Linked DNA regions of Homo sapiens. The protein of the gene in region 3 purifies or fractionates together with the protein of the main gene of each other region. This does not show direct contact. Each region holds a gene or a part of one and is shown on either strand. Other genes may lie near its edges. The genes, in order: TBCD, THG1L, SH3GLB2, LZTFL1 and RPUSD2.

The links.
Region 1: the proteins of SH3GLB2 (region 3) and TBCD fractionate together in Homo sapiens (co-fractionation; one large-scale study listed by BioGRID). This does not show direct contact.
Region 2: the proteins of SH3GLB2 (region 3) and THG1L fractionate together in Homo sapiens (co-fractionation; one large-scale study listed by BioGRID). This does not show direct contact.
Region 4: the proteins of SH3GLB2 (region 3) and LZTFL1 fractionate together in Homo sapiens (co-fractionation; one large-scale study listed by BioGRID). This does not show direct contact.
Region 5: the proteins of SH3GLB2 (region 3) and RPUSD2 fractionate together in Homo sapiens (co-fractionation; one large-scale study listed by BioGRID). This does not show direct contact.

What each region holds. Positions count from the first base shown.
Region 1 is NC_000017.11:82,758,551-82,762,068, forward strand, and holds part of TBCD (tubulin-specific chaperone D), read left to right. Parts: intron 1-3,518.
Region 2 is NC_000005.10:157,734,402-157,737,919, reverse strand, and holds part of THG1L (probable tRNA(His) guanylyltransferase), read right to left. Parts: intron 3,345-3,518; coding exon 3,175-3,344; intron 2,075-3,174; coding exon 1,986-2,074; intron 34-1,985; coding exon 1-33. UniProt on the Homo sapiens protein: Adds a GMP to the 5'-end of tRNA(His) after transcription and RNase P cleavage. This step is essential for proper recognition of the tRNA and for the fidelity of protein synthesis.
Region 3 is NC_000009.12:129,025,532-129,029,632, forward strand, and holds the start of SH3GLB2 (endophilin-B2), read right to left. Parts: upstream 2,801-4,101; 5' UTR 2,624-2,800; coding exon 2,561-2,623; exon of another isoform or gene 2,128-2,560; coding exon of another isoform or gene 2,032-2,127; intron 1-2,031.
Region 4 is NC_000003.12:45,832,103-45,835,620, forward strand, and holds part of LZTFL1 (leucine zipper transcription factor-like protein 1), read right to left. Parts: coding exon 3,488-3,518; intron 2,197-3,487; coding exon 2,136-2,196; intron 1,020-2,135; coding exon 948-1,019; intron 1-947. UniProt on the Homo sapiens protein: Regulates ciliary localization of the BBSome complex. Together with the BBSome complex, controls SMO ciliary trafficking and contributes to the sonic hedgehog (SHH) pathway regulation. May play a role in neurite outgrowth. May have tumor suppressor function.
Region 5 is NC_000015.10:40,572,297-40,575,465, reverse strand, and holds the end of RPUSD2 (pseudouridylate synthase RPUSD2), read right to left. Parts: intron 1,940-3,169; coding exon 1,205-1,939; 3' UTR 517-1,204; downstream 1-516. UniProt on the Homo sapiens protein: Pseudouridine synthase that catalyzes pseudouridylation of mRNAs.

The DNA.
Region 1 (3,518 bases), on a different chromosome or scaffold from region 3:
AGTTCATTATTTTCTGGAATTCCTTTTTAGAAAAAGGAAAATGTAGTCGTGGGATGCTGGTCCTTTGTCATTTGTTGCACATTTTTCCACCCTTTTGCTTTTTTTTTTTTCTTTTTTTTTTTTTTTTTTGAGATGTAGTCTCTCTGTTGCCCAGGCTGGAGTATAGTGGCCCAATCTTGGCTCACTGCAACTTCTGCCTCCAGGGTTCAAGCGATTCTCCTGCCTCAGCCTCCAGCGTAGCTGGGATTACAGGCGTGTGCTACCACGCCTGGCTAATTTTTTGCATTTTTAGTAGAGACAGGGTTTCACCATGTTGGCCAGGCTGGTCTCAAACTCCTGACCCCCACGTGATCTGCCCACCTTGGTCTCCCAAAGTGCTGGGATTACAGGTGTGAGCCATTGTGCCCGGCCTGCTTTTGCCTTTTAATATTGTGTCTGGTGTATTTTATCTACTGAAGTTTTTTCGTGTTTGTTTTTTTAAAGAGATGGGATCTCGCTCTGTCACCCAGGCTGGAGTGTAGTGGCGCAGTCATAGCTCACTGCAGCCTTGAGCTCCTGGGATTAAGTGATCTTCTCACTTCAGCCTCCTGCAGAGCTGGGACAACAGGCACAAGCTGCCATGCCTAGTTAATTAAAAAACTTTTTTTTTTGGCCAGGCGCAGTAGCTCATGCCTCTGATCCTAGCACTTTGGGAGGCCGAGGCGGGTGGATTACAAGGTCAGGAGTTCAAGACCAGCCTGACCAACATGGTGAAACCCTGTCTCTACTAAAAATACAAAAATTAGCTGGGCATGGTGAAGCATGCCTGTAATCCCAGCTACTTGAGAGGCCGAGGCAGGAGAATTGCTTGAACTGGGACCCAGGACGCGGAGGTAGCAGTGAACGAGATCGTGCCACTGCACTCCAGCGTGGGCTACAGAGCCAGACTGTCTCAAAAAAAAAAAAATTTTGTTTTTGCAGGGTCAGGGTCACGCTGTGTTCCTCAGGCTGGTCTCGAACTTCTGGCCCCAAGCAATCCTGCCTTGGCCTCCCACAGTGCTGGGATGACAGGTGTGAGCCACTGCACCCAGTCTCTACTGAAGTTTTAGAAATATTTAGCTTGTCAAACTATCAGTTTCTTTGTGTTTGGCCTTTGGTAGTACGGTTAGAAAGTTTATTTTTCCTAATCAGTTATGTAAGCCTCATTTATTGGATGATTTAGTGGCCTCTCCCCTACTTGAAATGCCATTTTAAATCTATATTAAATATTCAAATATATTAGCCTTTGCTTTTAGATTTTTTATCCTGTTCCATTGACCTATCTGTATGCTCTTTTTTCTGGGTCATTTCGTTTGTTTGTTTTTTTTTTTTTTTTGAGATGGAGTCTCGCTCTGTCACCCAGGCTGGAGTGCAGTGGCGTGTTCTTGGCTTACTGCAACCTCCGCCTCCCAGGTTCAAGAGATTCTCCTGCCTCAGCCTCCCGAGTAGCATGTGCCACCACGCCTGGCTAATTTTTGTATTTTTAGTAGAGAACGGTTTTCATCATGTTGGCCAGGATAGTCTCGAACTCCTGACCTCAAGCAGTCTGCCCGCCTTGGCCTCCCAAAGTGCTGGAATTAGAGGCGTGAGCCACCACGCCTGGCCTGGGTCATTTTGTTTGATGTTAGTTTATATTTTGCCTGGCATCCTTTCCTCTTATTTTCTTGATGGTTTTGTAGCCCGTTCATTAATGCGGATGAACTCCGGAATTATTTTATCACTCTCCACCCTTTGGAATTCTATTAAATTCACAAATTCATGTAGGGGAGAAGTCTTTCTAAGATTTAATTTTCATGTCTAAGATCATGGTATTATGTCTCTAATTATTCACATCTTTTGTGTTCCTCAGTGAAGGTTGGTGATTTTCTTTAGATGATTCCTGGAGACTTTTTTTTAGGTTTATTTCTAGGTATGTTTTGTCTTTTATTGCTCTTGTGAAACTATTTGTTATGTGTTCTAACTAGTTATTGCTGATGTCTAGTGAAGATATGTTTTGTATACTGTTTTTGTAAATGGCAACACTGTAATGGAATATGTATGTGTAAACATACATTTCTTAACATCTTTATAGGGATATAATTACATACTATAGAGTTCACTCTTCTAAATATACATTTTAGTGTTAGTGTATTAGTGTATTACAGAGTTGTGTAACTATCACTACCACAATCTAGGCATTTTCATCATCTGAAGCAACCCAACTCCCATCAACAATTCCTTCCCATTCTCTGCTTCCGCAGTAACCACTCATCTGGCTCTGGGTTTGTGTGTATTCAGCATTTTGTGTGATGGAATCATGCAGTAGGAGGTCTTTTGGCACTGGCTTTTTTCACTTAGCATCATGTCTATGAGGTTCACTGTGTGATGAAATGTTTACTTCAATAGTTTTTCAGTCTTTTTTTTTTTTTGGAGACAAAGTCTTGCTCTGTCACCCAGGCTGGAGTGTAATGGCGTGATCTTGGCTCACTGCAACCTCCTTCTCCTGGGTTCAAGCGATTCTCCTGCCTCAGCCTCCTGAGTAGCTGGGATTACAGGCGCCACCTGTAAAATTAGCCTGGCCAATTTTTGTATTCTGAGTAGAGACAGGGTTTCACCATGATGGCCAGGCTTGTCTTGAACTCCTGACCTCAGGTGATCCACCTGCCTCGGCCTCCCAAAGTGCTGGGATTACAGGCGTGAGCCACCGTGCCCGGCCAGTTGTTTCTTCTGGGTTTTCTTAGCAGGTAAATATTATATGGTTTGTAAATAATGCTACTCTTTATCCACGATTATAAATTTTTATTCTTAGAACATTTTATTGAGTTTTAATTTTATTGAGTTTAAAATTTACCTACTATAAAATGCACCCATTTTAGTAAGATGTTTGAGTTTCGGTAAATGTATACACCCCGCGCTATCAAGATATGGAACATTTCTGTCATCCCAAGGAGTTACTTGATGTCCTTTTGCTGTCAGTCCCCTCACCCCAGCCCTAGGGAACCACTGTTGGTTAATGGTACTGTTCATTAGTTTTGCCTGTTCTAGAATCATTCAGTATGTGCTCTTTTTGTCTTCCGTTGTTAAAATAACATCTCCGGGACTTACCATTGTTGGTGTGTGTATCAGTAGTTTGTACGTTTTCTCTCGTGCTGATAAATCACAATTTGTTTCTTCTTTTTTTTTTTTGAGATGGAGTCTTGGTCTGTTGCCCAGGCTGGAGTGCGGTGGAGTGCAGTGGTGCGATCTCGGCTCACTGCAAGCTCTGCCACCCGGGTTCACGCCATTCTCCTGCCTCAGCCTCCCGAGTAGCTGGGACTACGGGTGCCCGCCAACACACCCAGCTAATTTTTTTTTTATTTTTAGTAGAGACGGGGTTTCACCTTGTTAACCAGGATGGTCTCGATCTCCTGACCTCGTGATCCGCCCGCCTCAGCCTTCCAAAGTGCTGGGGTTGTTTCTTCTTTTATCTGTTGATGGACATTTGAGTTGTTTCCGGTTTTTGGCTGTTATTAATAATGCTA
Region 2 (3,518 bases), on a different chromosome or scaffold from region 3:
CAAAATCTCATTCTTGTCTGCTGCAAGAGTTCCCTGAGAAAATAAAAATAGATATTAAAAGCTCTGCATGTCTTCTTTCTCCCCTAGTGCTACTATCCATTCGACCCACAACCTAAATTTCCACAATCAAGAAGTGGAAGGATTTTATCAAACATCTTATAGTTATTAGTAAATTTTCATCTTAAGGGCAATTATGATCTTACTTAGATAAAATTCTCTCCTATACCAAACACTGGCTTCACAAGTCAAGACTGAAAGGGAGTGGGGAGAATTAATACTAACTGAATACATATTATGTATTTGGTCCAGTAAAACTTAGAAAGGTTATATAAATTCCCCAAGGTTAAAAGGTTGTCCTTATTCTTCTACGAAGAATTGAAATCTGAACTTGACTCTTCCAAACCTGGATATACCTACCAGTATGCCTTTTTTTTTTTTAGACAAAGTCTCACTCTGTTGCCCAGGTTGGAGTGCAGTGGTGCAATCTCAGCTCACTGCAACTGCCACCTCCCAGGTTCAAGCGATTCTCATGCCTCAGCCTCCTGAGTCGCTGGGATTACAGGTGTGTGCCAGCACACCCAGCTAATTTTTGTAGAGAAGCGGTCTCACCATGTTGGCCAGGCTGGTCTTGAACTCCTGACGTCAGGTGATCCACCTACCTTGGCCTCCTCAGAGTGCTGGGATTACATGCGTGAACCACCACACCAGGCCCCAGTTTTCCTATTATTGCTATATAAAAATCTCTATCATTACTATTATTAAAAATGACAACCATTTATTGAGCAAACATAATGTACCAGGCATTGTATTAGTAACTGTTACAGCTGGGCACAGTGGCATGCACCTGTAATCCCAGCTACTTGGGAGGCTGAGGTGGGCGGACTGCTGGAGCCCAGGAGTTCAAGACCAGCCTGGGGAAAATAGCAAGAACCCATCTCAAAAAATAAATAAATAGATAAAATAAAATACAAATAAAAGATCTGTTACAACACATTACCTCACTTCACAGTTAGTCATCCTACAAGTAGCACTGTTATAACAAAAACCAGTATTTATTAAGCACTTACAATGTGCTTCATACGATTCTGTGTTTTACGTGCATCATGCCATTTAATTCTCACCATAAACCTATGAGGTAGAAACTACTATTTTCTACATTTTACCTATAAAGAACTGAGGCAGAAAGGATAAAATTACACAGAAGCATGATGTGAGTAGTTATTATGACATTTATGAAAGTAACAAACTCAGCACGAACTCTTCCTATACACAGAGGTCATAAACCCAAGAAACTACAGGTGCCCAGCAGGGAAAATGGCAATGAGGGAAGAGGCGTGGTGGGACTGACAAAAATTCAGTGCTGGCCAGGTGTGGTGGCTCACTGGCTCACGCCTGTAATCCCAGCACTCTGGGAGGCCCAGGCAGGCAGATCACTTCAGGTCAGGAGTTCAAGACCAGCCTGGCCAACGGGGTGAAACCCTGTCTCTACTAAAAATACAAAAATTAGCTGGGTGTGGTGGCATGCACCTGTAATCCCAGCTACTTGGGAGGCTGAGGCACGAGAATCGCTTGAGCACAGGAGGTGGAGGTTGCAATCAGCTGAGATCACACCACTGTACTGCAGCCTGGGCAACAGAGTGAAACTGTGTCTCAAAAAAAAAAAAAAAAGTCAGTGCTGAAGACGGCAGTCATACACAGTCATACACGGCTTCAGGCAAGTGTTAGCACGTGGGAATGCAGAGCCAGTGCCGTCAATTCCATTTTCCACTAAGAACACAAAGGCTCAGGGAGAAGCAGTAATTCATCCAGGATTACAGACCAAGCAGGCAGCAGAGCTGCTCCTATTATGATTTTTATATCCTTTCAAAACAAAGCTGTACAGGGATCTTAAAAGAAAGAAATGTAAATTTAACAAAAAAAAAGTTATGGGAGAGCCTACAGCGAACTGTCCCCAGTTAAGTATTAATGTAGTAAGATCTTTATACCTGTAATCTCCCTTGGGCTTGTACTGGTGTTAGTCCAGATTGTTGTATAAGTGCCCAGAAAACTGTATTATAAAGATTATTGATGTGACCTGTGAGGAGAACAAAATAGTAATGTTTATATACATAAAATCTTTATTGAATATTCATTCTTCAAGGAATACTAGAGCCCTGACCCTCTCCTCTTTCATAGTAAAGAGATCTCAGAGACATTCAGTGACTTGACCGAAGTCCTACACACGGAACATGGAGGGAAGGAGCAGTAGGGAAAAAACTTCATCCCTAACAACAGTTTTATTTGGTCATTTCAGTTACACATTATACAAATCTGTTAACTTGTGTGTTAATCCTAGGAATACTTTAGAAGTTATTTGATTTATATTATTTCAATCTCTTTTCCAGTTCTTCTGGAAAATTCAAACTAGAACAAGCAAGTAAAAGCCTCACAAACATCATCACAGTCACATAAGGCAAGGGTCACAATTCAAATACCCACTGAGGCCAGCATGAACATAAATGTGTAAAGCAGTGGGTGACCCCAGAGGAACAACAGGGAATGGCAGAGACTATGGCACACTGGCATTTGTGTGTGTGTGTGTGTGTAAAGGTAGCTGCCACTGAACAGGCTTTGTCTAGTACTAAGTAAGAATGCAGATCCAGTATTGCCACATCTGATTTTTTTAAAAAATAGAGATAAGGCGGCTGGGCGTGGTGGCTCACGCCTATAATCCCAGCACTTTGGGAGGCCAAGGCGGGTGGATCACCTGAGGTCAGGAGTTCAAGACCAGCCTGACCAACATGGAGAAACCCCATTTCTACTAAAAAATACAGAATCAGCCGGGCGTGGTGGCACATGCCTGTAATCCCAGCTACTCGGGAGGCTGAGGCAGAAGAATCCCATGAACCCAGGAGGTGGAGGTTGCAGTGAGCCAAGATGACACCACTGCATTCCAGCCTGGGCAACAAGAGCGAAACTCTGTCTTAAAAAAAAAAAAAAATAGAGATAAGGAGTTTTTACGTAAAATTTAATTTTTCAAATACTTTTAACTAATTGAAAAAATATTTAAATACTGCATTCTGTACAACGTATATGTTGAAACAAAGTATATGTGAGCCAATCCTGTATCAGATCAACACCTGTAAGACATGGAATTGGTGGTTTAACTACATGTGTTTATTTGGTGCCACTCACAATCTGCTTGTCGCCAGCTGAGGTAGTCCTTTAAAGTCTGGTTGCTGGGATACACCACGACTCTTCCGTCAAAGCCTGGGGGATACAGAAGGGGCTGGTCCTCAAAGTAATCCCGCCAATAAAACACATAGCTGGAGGCAAACTGGGAGGCCACGTGAGTCATGAACTTACTTGAAAATGTAACGCACATTGGGTGGAGTAAGAAAAAGAAAAATACACGGAATTAGTTCAACACCATGATAAGACCTGTGGGTACCACAGAGAGTACACAAACTGCCCAGAAAGCCAGGAGATAAAATGCATTTGGCTAAGAAACACTATTTTAATACCTTGGTTCTGTATTT
Region 3 (4,101 bases):
CTCCAGCCTCGGCGACAGGATGAGACTCTGTCTCAAAAAAAAAAAAGGAAGGAAAGAAGAAAGGAGAGAGGGACTAAGGGAGGAAGGAAGGAAGGCAGGCAGGCAGGCAGGCAGGCAGGCAGGCCTCCCTCACATCCCTCCTCAGCTCTCAGGAGCTACCCTGATGGTACCAAGGGCATCACCCTAAATGTGCACCTCAACACCTCCCCTCCTTACCAAGGTTCAGAGCAGCACTCCCCACCCCGCCCTCCCTTACAGGCCACATCTGCCCAGGTGAGAAGTTCTACCAGGCTTTCCCAAACTAGACGGCATCCATCCCATGTCCACTGCAGTCTGCCTAGCTCCATGATGACGATGCCACCACCTCTCTGGACTTTATAAGTATTACTTCTACCACTACTATTACTGTTACTGCAATTACTACTAATAGTATTAGTACTATCACTCCTCCTGCCCTCTCCCACCCCCACTGGCATCTTGTCCAAATCTGCCTTAGGTTTTCTTGCCTCGGTGCCCTTATCTGGGCTGCTCCTGCCACTTGGACCAACATCATGAGCCCCTCCCTACTTTCTGAGCACAGTTCAGGGGCCCTCCATGCAGGAGACCATCCCAGAATGACCCATACAAAAGGGATCCTGCCCTCTGGATCCTCATCTCAGGGCCAAGGCCTTGTTCCTTGCTGGATCGGGGAGGCTCTTAAAGTTGTTTCTTGTACCTGCAGGGACTGGGAGGTTCCTGAGCCCATCACATGTATTGATCATAAAGAACCCCTCTCCCATCCCTCCTGACTGTCTCCCATCCAGGCCAGCTTGGTCTCAGGCGGAGCCCCTCTGTGGCCTCTCCTGCCAGGTCACATTTCAGGCCTCTCTATCCCCTGGCCTGCCACTCTGCCCCAATCCTGCCAAGAGGAAGGGGTTTGGTGCTGGAGTCCGAGGCTGCTCCCGGGAAAATGGCAGCAGTGGGGTGGGCGTGCAGAGCAGAGAAAGCCTCTATTTATAAAGCTCTCAGCTCCCTCCCTCCCACCCCGAGGCTGGGGCCTGACTGCTGGCTCCCACTCCAGTAACAGTGACCCTGTGGGGCAGCTCCCACCAAGCGGAGCCACACCTAGGCCCTGCCCTGCCTAGGTCCTGAGAGCCCTGGCCAGGTCAGGCAGCAGGGCCCCAGCCCTAGCAGGGAACTGGCAGATCAGGTTCTTCCCAGATGTGGGAGATAGTGTGGTTGCCATACCAACAGCAGAGTGGGTTCCCCCCTCCCAGATGGACTGGGGCCGTCCAATCCGAGGGGCTCTGGGATCCTGGCATCTCCACTAGGGCTGGGGCTGCCCACCAGACTTGGAACACATTAAGCAGTGAATTCTCGCTGGGATGCTAATCCTCAGCGGGACACAGCACCTTCTAGTAAACATGACTACATGGGTTGCTGGCTGGGTGTGGGCTCCTGGGGAGGGGAGTGCCCGGGTTGGGGGTGGGGAGAGAACTGTACTCAACAGAAACAACAACGATGACAACGACAACGACAAAGACAAGACTACAGGACCTGCTCCCAGAACCCTGGGATGGGCCAGCCCCGGGCCTGCGGAATCCCACTGAATCCCATAACCACGGTGTTACACCAGATTTACAGAAGGGGAGGGCGGGGCTCTGAGAGAAGTGACTTGTCCAAGGTCACATGCTGCACAGGTGCAATATTAACCACTTTGACACCAATAATGAGCTTGCCTTTGGTGAGCACACATATGCAGAGTCCCACAGAATCCTCGCATCTGTCCTGGGAGGCAGGAATACTGATCCCATTTTTCAGACTGAGAAACTGAGGCCCAGTGAGATGAAGGCCCCTCCCCCAAGGTCACAGGAGGGCACATTCCCACCCACACCTGACCCTAGGTCTTCCCATGATGTTGAGTTGCCTGTTACTCTCTGCCCCTAAACGGATAGGACTTCTTCCAATCTCAGCATCGTGGGCCTGGACAGCTTCCCAGCCAGACCCCAGCCCTCTCTCCATCCCCCAGGCCCAGGGACCAAGGAAACAGACCTCCCGTGGAGCAGAAAAGAAACAACTCCTGGCTTCCGGCCTGACTATCCAAACGTGTGAAATGGCCATGAGGGACTCATGGCACCAGCCGCCCATTGCACAGGTGCGGAGACTGAGGCTCGGAGAAGGGGTTGTGGTGGACGCATGAGTCCCTGGGCCTGGGACCCAGGTCGCTAAATGCCCCGCCAGGCGCCAGTCACTGCTGGACAAGGGCAGGGAGGTAGCACCCAGCCGGTGCCTCCTCCCCTCCTCAGCCAGGCAGGCGCCAGGGGAGCAGGGTAACCCAACCAGCCCAAAGGGTGGGCACCGGTGCCTCGCCCCAGGCAGCAGGGCCAAGGCCCGGCTCGGGCCGCACGGGCTCTTTCCCTCTTCCGGTCAGCAAGGGCTCAGGGGGGCAGAGGTGTGCCGCGGCGGGGACGAGGGCAGCAGCCCGGGAGGGCTTTCCCGCGTCCCCAGGCGTCTGCCGCAGGGTGCTCCCCGCCCGCCGCACATCCGGGCCCCCGGCGCACGGCGCGACGCCAGGCCTCACCTGCACCGCCCGGGTGAAGAAGATGCCCGCGTCCGACGCCAGCTTCTTCATGTTGAAGTCCATGGCGTGCCCGCACGGCCGCCGCGCACGGCCCGAGCGCAGCCGGCAGCCCCCGGCCCAGCCGCCGCCGCCAACCGCACCCCGCCCACCTGCTGCGGGGCACCAGCCCTCCGCGCACCCGCCTGCCGGCCTGCCCGCCTGCCCGCCCGCCGCAGCCGCCGAGCCAGCCCGAGCGCGCAGGGCGGGGCGCGGAGGCCGCGGGTCGGAGCCAGAGGGGCGGGGGCGGAGCTGGCGGTGCCGGGGCGGGACGGGACGGCAGTGGGGCGGAGCTAGAGGGGCGGGGGCCGGGCTGGTTGGCGGAAGCCGGGCGGAGTCGGAGGGGGCGGGACTGGCGGGACAGGGGCGGAGCGAGAGGGCAGTGGGGCGGAGCTACATGGGTGGGGGCGAGGCCTTGGCGCGGCCAGAGCGGGGGTTGGTCTGGGGAGCAGGTTGTGCTGGGCAGGGCTCGCTGCTGGGCAGTGCTCGCTGCTGCCCCCATGCGCCTGCCGCCGCGGATTGGGCCGGCCTCTTTTTTTCCTTTTACTAAAATTATTAAAACTGGAACACATGTGCTCTTAGATGATTGCAGGTACACGCCATAATTACATATTATTTGCCATCTTACCAATGCTTTTCAAAAGTTTTAATTGATAAATATATATTTACGGCCTACAAGGTGATGAAATTGTGGAATGATGAAATCAAGTTAATTGACATATCCATCACCTCACCTACTTTTTTTGTGGTTAGAACATTTCAAATGTACTCTTTTAGCAATTTTGAAATATGCAATACTTTTTTTTTTTTTTTGTAGACAGAGTCTTGCTCTGTCGCCCAGGCTGGAGTGCAGTGGCGCGATCTCGGCTCACTGCAGCCTCCACCTGCCGGGCTCAAGCGATTCTCCTGCTTCATTCAGCCTCCCGAGTAGCTGGGACTACAGGCGCCCACCAACATGCCCCGCTAATTTTTTGTACTTTAGGAGAGACAAGGTTTTGCCATGTTGCCCAGGGTGGTCTTGAACTCCTGATCTCAGGCAATCTGCCTGCCTCAGTCTCCCAAAGTCACTAAGTGACTGAGTAGTCACCAATATGTGCAACAGATCTCTAAAATGGGCCTCTCTTGCTTTCTCCTCCCACCACCCAGGCCTGCTGCCTCTCCCCTGTTTGTGCCTCTTCATCTCCGCTCTTTATTCACACCCCCTCCCTCCCATTCCCATTTCTTCCACTCTGTTTCCCTTGGGTTTCCTCCCGTTACTCCTCCTCTCTGACCTCTCCTCCTCTCTTCTGCCCTGACCTTGGTGACTGAGCCGGAGTCAGGCTTGGGACTTGCCCTCCACCGCTGGAACAGCTGTTTGTCAGCCTGGGAGGCCCTGTGGCTTCCCCAAATTGGAGGAGGGTTGGGGTGGCGGTCACGGGAAGGGAGGGGGTTCTGGAGCTGGGGCCTGGAGCCCCCTGTGTGGTGAGAGGAGGAGATCAAAGGTTGGGTGACTGTCAGGGTGGAGA
Region 4 (3,518 bases), on a different chromosome or scaffold from region 3:
CAGGCGCTACTCGGAGGCTGAGGCAGGAGAATGGCGTGAACCCGGGAGGTGGAGCTTGGAGTGAGCCTAGATCACGCCACCGCACTCCAGCCTGGGCGACAGAGCAAGACTCTGTCTCAAAAAAACAAACCAACAAACAACAATAAAAAACCCAAACTATTACATTTTTGAGGGCAAGGGAGCAGGTATTACACTGCTTTTTATTTCTAACAACATCTAGCATAATGTTGAGAATACAAGGGTCATGAAAAATAGCTGAAATCTGAAATGCTTCAACATCAGAAACTTTCTGAGTGCTGACATGATGCTCAAAGAAACTGCTCATTGGAGCATTTCAGATTTCAGATTTTTGGATTTGGGATGCTCAACTGGGGTCTGTATAATGCAAATATTCAAAAATCTGAAATCCAAAACACTTCTAGTCCCAAGGATAAGGGATACTCAACCTGTGCTGATAAATAATTTTTTTTTTTTTTTGAGATGGAGTCTCGCTCTGTCGCCCAGGCTAGAGTGCAGTGGCGTGATCTCAGCTCACTGCAACCTCTACCTCCCGGGTTCAAGCAATTCTCCTGCCTCAGCCTCCCGAGTAGCTCTGACTATAGGCACGTACCACCACACCCGGCTAATTGATAAATAATTTTTATAAACTTAAAAACCCTTCTCCTTGTTACCGCAGATCACAAACTTTAAATGTCCATCAATAAACGCTGTCCAAAATTTCATGCTCTTCACTTTACCTTGAAAAGGTGTGATCAGGAGCTACTTCAGGCTCTCTAGAAGGTTAAGTATGCCCTCTTCTGGCCCATGGGGTACCATCAAGTAAAACTACTGCAATGGACTAATTATCCTCAGAGGACCTGAAACAAACCTTCCACTTCTGTTTCTCCACCCTAGGCAATGACAGGACAGAATGAGAGACTTTCCGTTTCTCAAAATAATAATATTACCTTGTTTAGGAGTTCTGCTGTTCCACCTTCATTAAGTGGAGCAAGTTTTGGCTTTGTGACATCTAAGATGGGCTGAAACAAAATAAAGAAACCAAACTGAAATCACCACAGAATAAAGCATGTATAATCATTGAACACTTGCACTTTGCAAGTGGAAGATACTATATATAAACATATTCACTGCGATGTCAGTTCCACAGGTGTGGAGATTTCTGTTGGTTTCATCCTTTGTTACTCCCAGTGCCTAGGATATGCCTGTCCTACAGTGCCCCATACATGTTAGAGACAAAAATAAAACCTATCTTCCCTGTATCTTTTAAAAATATATAGATAGAAGGAAAATGAGGGAAGAAAGGAGGGACGGAAGGAGCTCAAAGCCAGATCTGATATAGAGCCTAGCATCTAGCAACTAGAATTTTAGCCTGTGGGAGCTGAAACAGTGATTTCTACATGAACCTTAGACTCTGTGAAAAACAATAATATTGATGAAGATCTAGGCAAGTATAATACAGATAAACAATAACTTGGCACAAATAATATAGTAGTTTAGTAATATATATTAAAAATAAAATAATTCATGCCCTCTGATCCAGAAATTTCTTAGCCATAAATATGACCCAAAGGAATAACTGGAAAGTATTTTGCATGTGTATGTACATAGATTCATCTCAGCAGTATTTATCCAACAATGGAGTATTTACGGTGTGCCCGTGAAGTGGAATGGTAAGTGGCCACTCCAATTAATGAGAATGATTAGAAAGAGAGGTAGATAACTACTAGTATTGTCTCCATTTGTCAGATGAGTAAAATGAAGCTCAGCTACCTCAGATAACCTGCTCAAGGTAACACAGCCAGGAAGTGACAGAGCCAGGATGTATACCCAGGTGTGGCTGACCCTACAGCCTGCGCTCTGAATCTTCTGAGTAGAGTATTTATGAGTGGGATTGAGACTGAACTTAGGGATCATGTGTATGTGTAAGCCATCACAGACAAAAGCAGTTTTTCACAGTTACTTCCAAAACATTTTTTCTTTTGCCTGAAAATATGATAGACAATTTCTGAATTTTACTCTTGAATTGAATGCTTTTCCTTAAGAGTTCTCAGTTTTGATCTCTGAATTCTTTGAGCAACTTGAGGATTTTAAATACTGGCTATTAAGATATGGATTTAGAATGACCAAAAAGTTACCTTTTTGTTTGAAGATGTAATCTCTGCTTTTTCAAATTCTGCAACTTGTTCTAATAATTCTCTTGAAGAAGAAAGCAAAGATAAAAATTATTCATTTAAAATAGATTTATATCACACGCAAGAAGAGTAAAATCACTGGTACCAACCCATTACATGCCAGAGAGAACAGAGCAAGATGGACCAAACTTCACCATATCAAAAATGTTAGTTGCAAATGGTTGAGAACCTAAACCACATGGACTCAAATGTAATCATCCACAGTACCTGGCATTTTGTATCTACTAGGTATGCAATATCTACTGCTAGAAATAAACCATAATGTTAATACAAATATGAGGAAAATTTATAGTCAACTTTGTATTCTTGAGGTGCTATGAGGAGACTGTTTTATTACATAATGTGTATTGTTAGCTAGTAGGTGTTCAAAAAAGATTCTTAATAAAGTAGTCTCAGAAAAATGAAAATAGTCCATAGTATCTACTGAAAAAGAGTACCACAAATTCCTAGGAAAGACAGATAGTGGGGGTGTGCCATCTGAAGATTTGCAAAGGCCAATGAGAAGTGACTACACACAAGCTTAGAGTGTTAACAGCAGTCAGCTTCTAAGCTTCTTAAAGCACCACCTTCTCAGAGTTTTCTCACCAGTCATCTACTGACAGTGGCAGAAGTTCAATGATTTTCCTCCCCAGCTCATAGGTTGTCCTCAGCGTTGTTCAACACTCTGCATGTGAACTGATGTGCTGTGACTGTGCTTAGAGTAGTTCACGGGGCTTGGCGGTCAGTCCTTCCTGATTTCTGGCATGCTTTTTCTTAAAATGAGTTTCAACTTCACCAATTTTACCATATTTTTTGAATTTGAGCTCTTAGATGTCCATATTATAAGCTTTTTTGTATATTTCCTATTTCAAAGTTAATAAATGTATACTTTTAAATTCCATTATTTAGAAAACTTCCAATGCTACTGGATTGAATTGATGGTATTTATTATATTTGAATTGACTTTTCAACTGTCTCATAATCTCTATTTCTTAGTTGACCAATCTATAAAGACTGATGGTAATACTGACCAAGCTAACAAAAATGCTGTAAGAAATAATTAATGATAGCCTGAAAAGCAATTTCATAAATCTCGATGGCCTTTGTAATACCTAGGAACAGTAGAAACAGAGAACTTTTAAAAGGGTGCTTAGTGGTACCCAAGAGATCACTCAGTGACTCAATGCTTTGCTGTTACCCTACCCAAATTTCCTCACACACTAGCCCCAAGAAAATATGCAGCCAAAGATGTTCACTAACTTTTAAGATTATGCTTGGGCCATTATTGTCACAGTTGCAAGTTCAAATTTTATTACCGGTTTTCAAGTTCAGAGATGTCTGTCTGTA
Region 5 (3,169 bases), on a different chromosome or scaffold from region 3:
TTAAGTTGGGCTGTTAGTCTTTTTGCTAAGACTCTCACATCCAGAATATATAAAGAACACTTACACTCCACAACAAAAAGACTAACAACCCAGAATGAGATGCCACTTCACTCCTACTAGGATGACTATAATCAAAACAAAACAAATGTTGGTGAAGATGTAGAGAAATTGAAACCCTATGCTTGCTGGTGGCAATATAAAATGGTTCAGCTGCTGTGGAAAAGTTTGGTGGATTCTCAAACATTTAAACATAGAATTACCATATGACCCAGCAATTCCACTGTGAGGTATATACCCAAAAGAACTGAAAACATATTTAATGTTCACAGCAGCACTATCCACAATAATGAAATGGTGGAAACAACCCAAATGTCCATTAACTGATGAACAGATAGACAAATCGTGGTATATCCATACAACAGCTTATTCTGCCATAAAAAAAGAATGAAGTACCGATACATGCTACAAGTTGAATAAACCTTGAAAACATTATGCCAAGGGAAACAGAGACATAGGTCACATGTTTTATCATTCCATTTATATAAAATGTCCAGAATAAACAGGCAAATCCAAACAGACAGAAAGTAGATTAGTGGTTGCCAGAGGCTGGTGGAAGGGGAGTGGAAAGTGACCACTTACTTAATGGGTACAGGTTTCCTTTTGGGGTGATGAAAATGTTTTGGAAATATATGAGGTTATGGTTGTACAACACTGTGAATGTACTAAATGTGACTACGCTGTACATCTTAAATTGGTTAATTTTTTTTTTTTTTAAGAGACAGGGTCTCACTCTGTCACCTAGGCTCTGGAGTGCAGCAGCACAATCACAGTTCACTTTAACCTTGAACTCTTGGCCTCCAGTGATCCTTTCACTTCTACCTCCCAAAGTACTAGGATTATAGCCATGAGCCACTGTGCCTGGCTAGTTAAAGTGGTTAATTTTATGTTATGTGAATTTTACATCAGTAATAAAAAAGAAGCCGGAAGAAAACCAGACATCAAAGATGTTAGAAAAAGGGATATATTTACAAACCAAAAAGTCTCCAAATTCCCACTGGAAGGAGGTAGCAAGTATGAGCAGGTCTCTTTAGAAGCCCGTCCTCATTCCTATAGAAACCCCAAGTACTAGCCCATGGGGTCAGCCCTTGCCCTATAGCCCATCCTTGTCACAACCCAAGAAGCAATCCCTCCATTGGCCACACCCTCAGTCCTTTTGCCAGTCATCCTGTGCCCAGGCAGGCATTGGTGAAAAGTACTCAAAGCCTGGCCCTTTATAGCGTAGGGCATGTAGGAACATCACAAGGTCTTGGGGCAAGGGATCCTGTCGCACCAGCCGGCACTCTGCACAGAGTGGGTCTGTCTCTTGATTCATGACATCTGTTTCAACTGCCTTCTCTGATGCCAAGGCTATTGTGTCCAACTCCTGAGGGGCTGCCTCAGCTACTTCCTCCATCTTCTGGGCAGCTGCAGCCAACTCTTCCAGGTCGTCCTTGCCCAACTCTGAGGAGGGGGCCGTAGAGTCTGTGAGTCCTGGGGACAGGTCACCCTCACAGAGATCTAGCACATCCAGGCTCTGTTTGGCCTGGTGCTCTGCTACCAGGTCCCGTAGCAACTCCTCGTTTGTCTTGGGAATGTAGCCGCCCCGGCCTCGAGAAGGACCCCAGGCAACTGAGTTGTAGATGGGGTCGTTGAGAATGGGATGGCCCAAGAACTGAAGGTGGACTCGAATCTGGTGTGTGCGGCCTGTGAGTGGCCGGCACCGTACCACACTGGACTGGCCATTGTAGCTTAGCCTCTGGAACACTGTCTCACAGGGCTTGCCCCGGGGATCTACACGGCACACCCCTACTTTGTAAGACACCACTAAGATGGGTTCTTTACAGGTCACTTCCTCAGTGGGGAACTCCCCTTCCACCCGGCACACGTACTCCTTCTCCAGCTACATAGGAGGGAAGAGGGAGAAAGTCAGTACAAAGCCTAAATTCATGGAGTCCAAACTCTTTGTGGAGTGATAAGGACCAGTGTCAGAAAATTCAAACTCCAGCTCTACCATTCGCCAGTTTTGCGATCTTGGGTACATTACTTAACCTCTAAATCCTACTAACTCATCTAGAAAATGTGAAATTAGAAAAGCATTTACCAGCTGGGTGAGGTGGCTCACGCCTGTAATCCCAGCACTTTGGGAAGCTGAGGTGGGTGGATCACCTGAGGTCGAAAGTTCGAGACCAGCCTGACCAACATGAAGAAACCCCGTCTCTACTAAAAAATACAAAATTAGCCAGGCGTGGTGGCGCATGCCAGTCATCCCAGCTACCTGGGAGGCTGAGGCAGGATAATTGCTTGAACCCAGGAGGCGGAGGTTGCAGTGAGCCAGGATCACACCATTGCACTCCAGACTGGGCAACAAGAGCGAAACTCCATCTCAAAAAAAAAAAAAAAAAAAAAGAAAAGAAAAGAAAAGCATTTACCTCATTGGGCTGTGATAAGCATTCAGTAAGTTAGGCTCTAATGTGCTTGATACTAAGCCTGGTATATAGCATGCACTCAATAAATGTATTATGATTCAGATCCAGAATTACAAGTCTCAGGACAACAATCATTACCATTAAACTCCTCTACCCAAGACTTTTCCAACTACATCTAGAATCTTTTCACCAAGCAGGCTCTCCCCATAATCTTAAAAGCCTTGCTCAGCCTGTCAGCACTTTATTTTCTTATGTTAATTTATTTCTTTGAGACGGAGTCTTGTTCTATAGCTCAGGCTGGAACGCAGTGACATGCTCATGGCTCACTGCAGCCTCAACCTCCCATGGCCAAGTGATCCTCCTATCTCAGCCTCCCAAGTAGCTGGGACTACAGGCATGTGCCACCATGCCAGGGTAAGTTTTTTTTTTTTTTTTTGAGACAGAGTCTCACTCTGTCACCCAGGCTGGAGTGCGGTGGCGCGATTCGGCTCACTGCAAGCTCCACCTCTTGGGTTCACACCATTCTCCTGCCTCAGCCTCCCGAGTAGCTGGGACTATAGGTGCCCGCCACCACGCCCAGCTAATTTTTTGTATTTTTTTTTAGTAGAGACGGGGTTTCACCGTGTTAGCCAGGATGACCTCGATCTCCTGACCTCGTGATCTGCCCGCCTCGGCCTCCCAAAGTGTTGGGATTACAGGCGTGA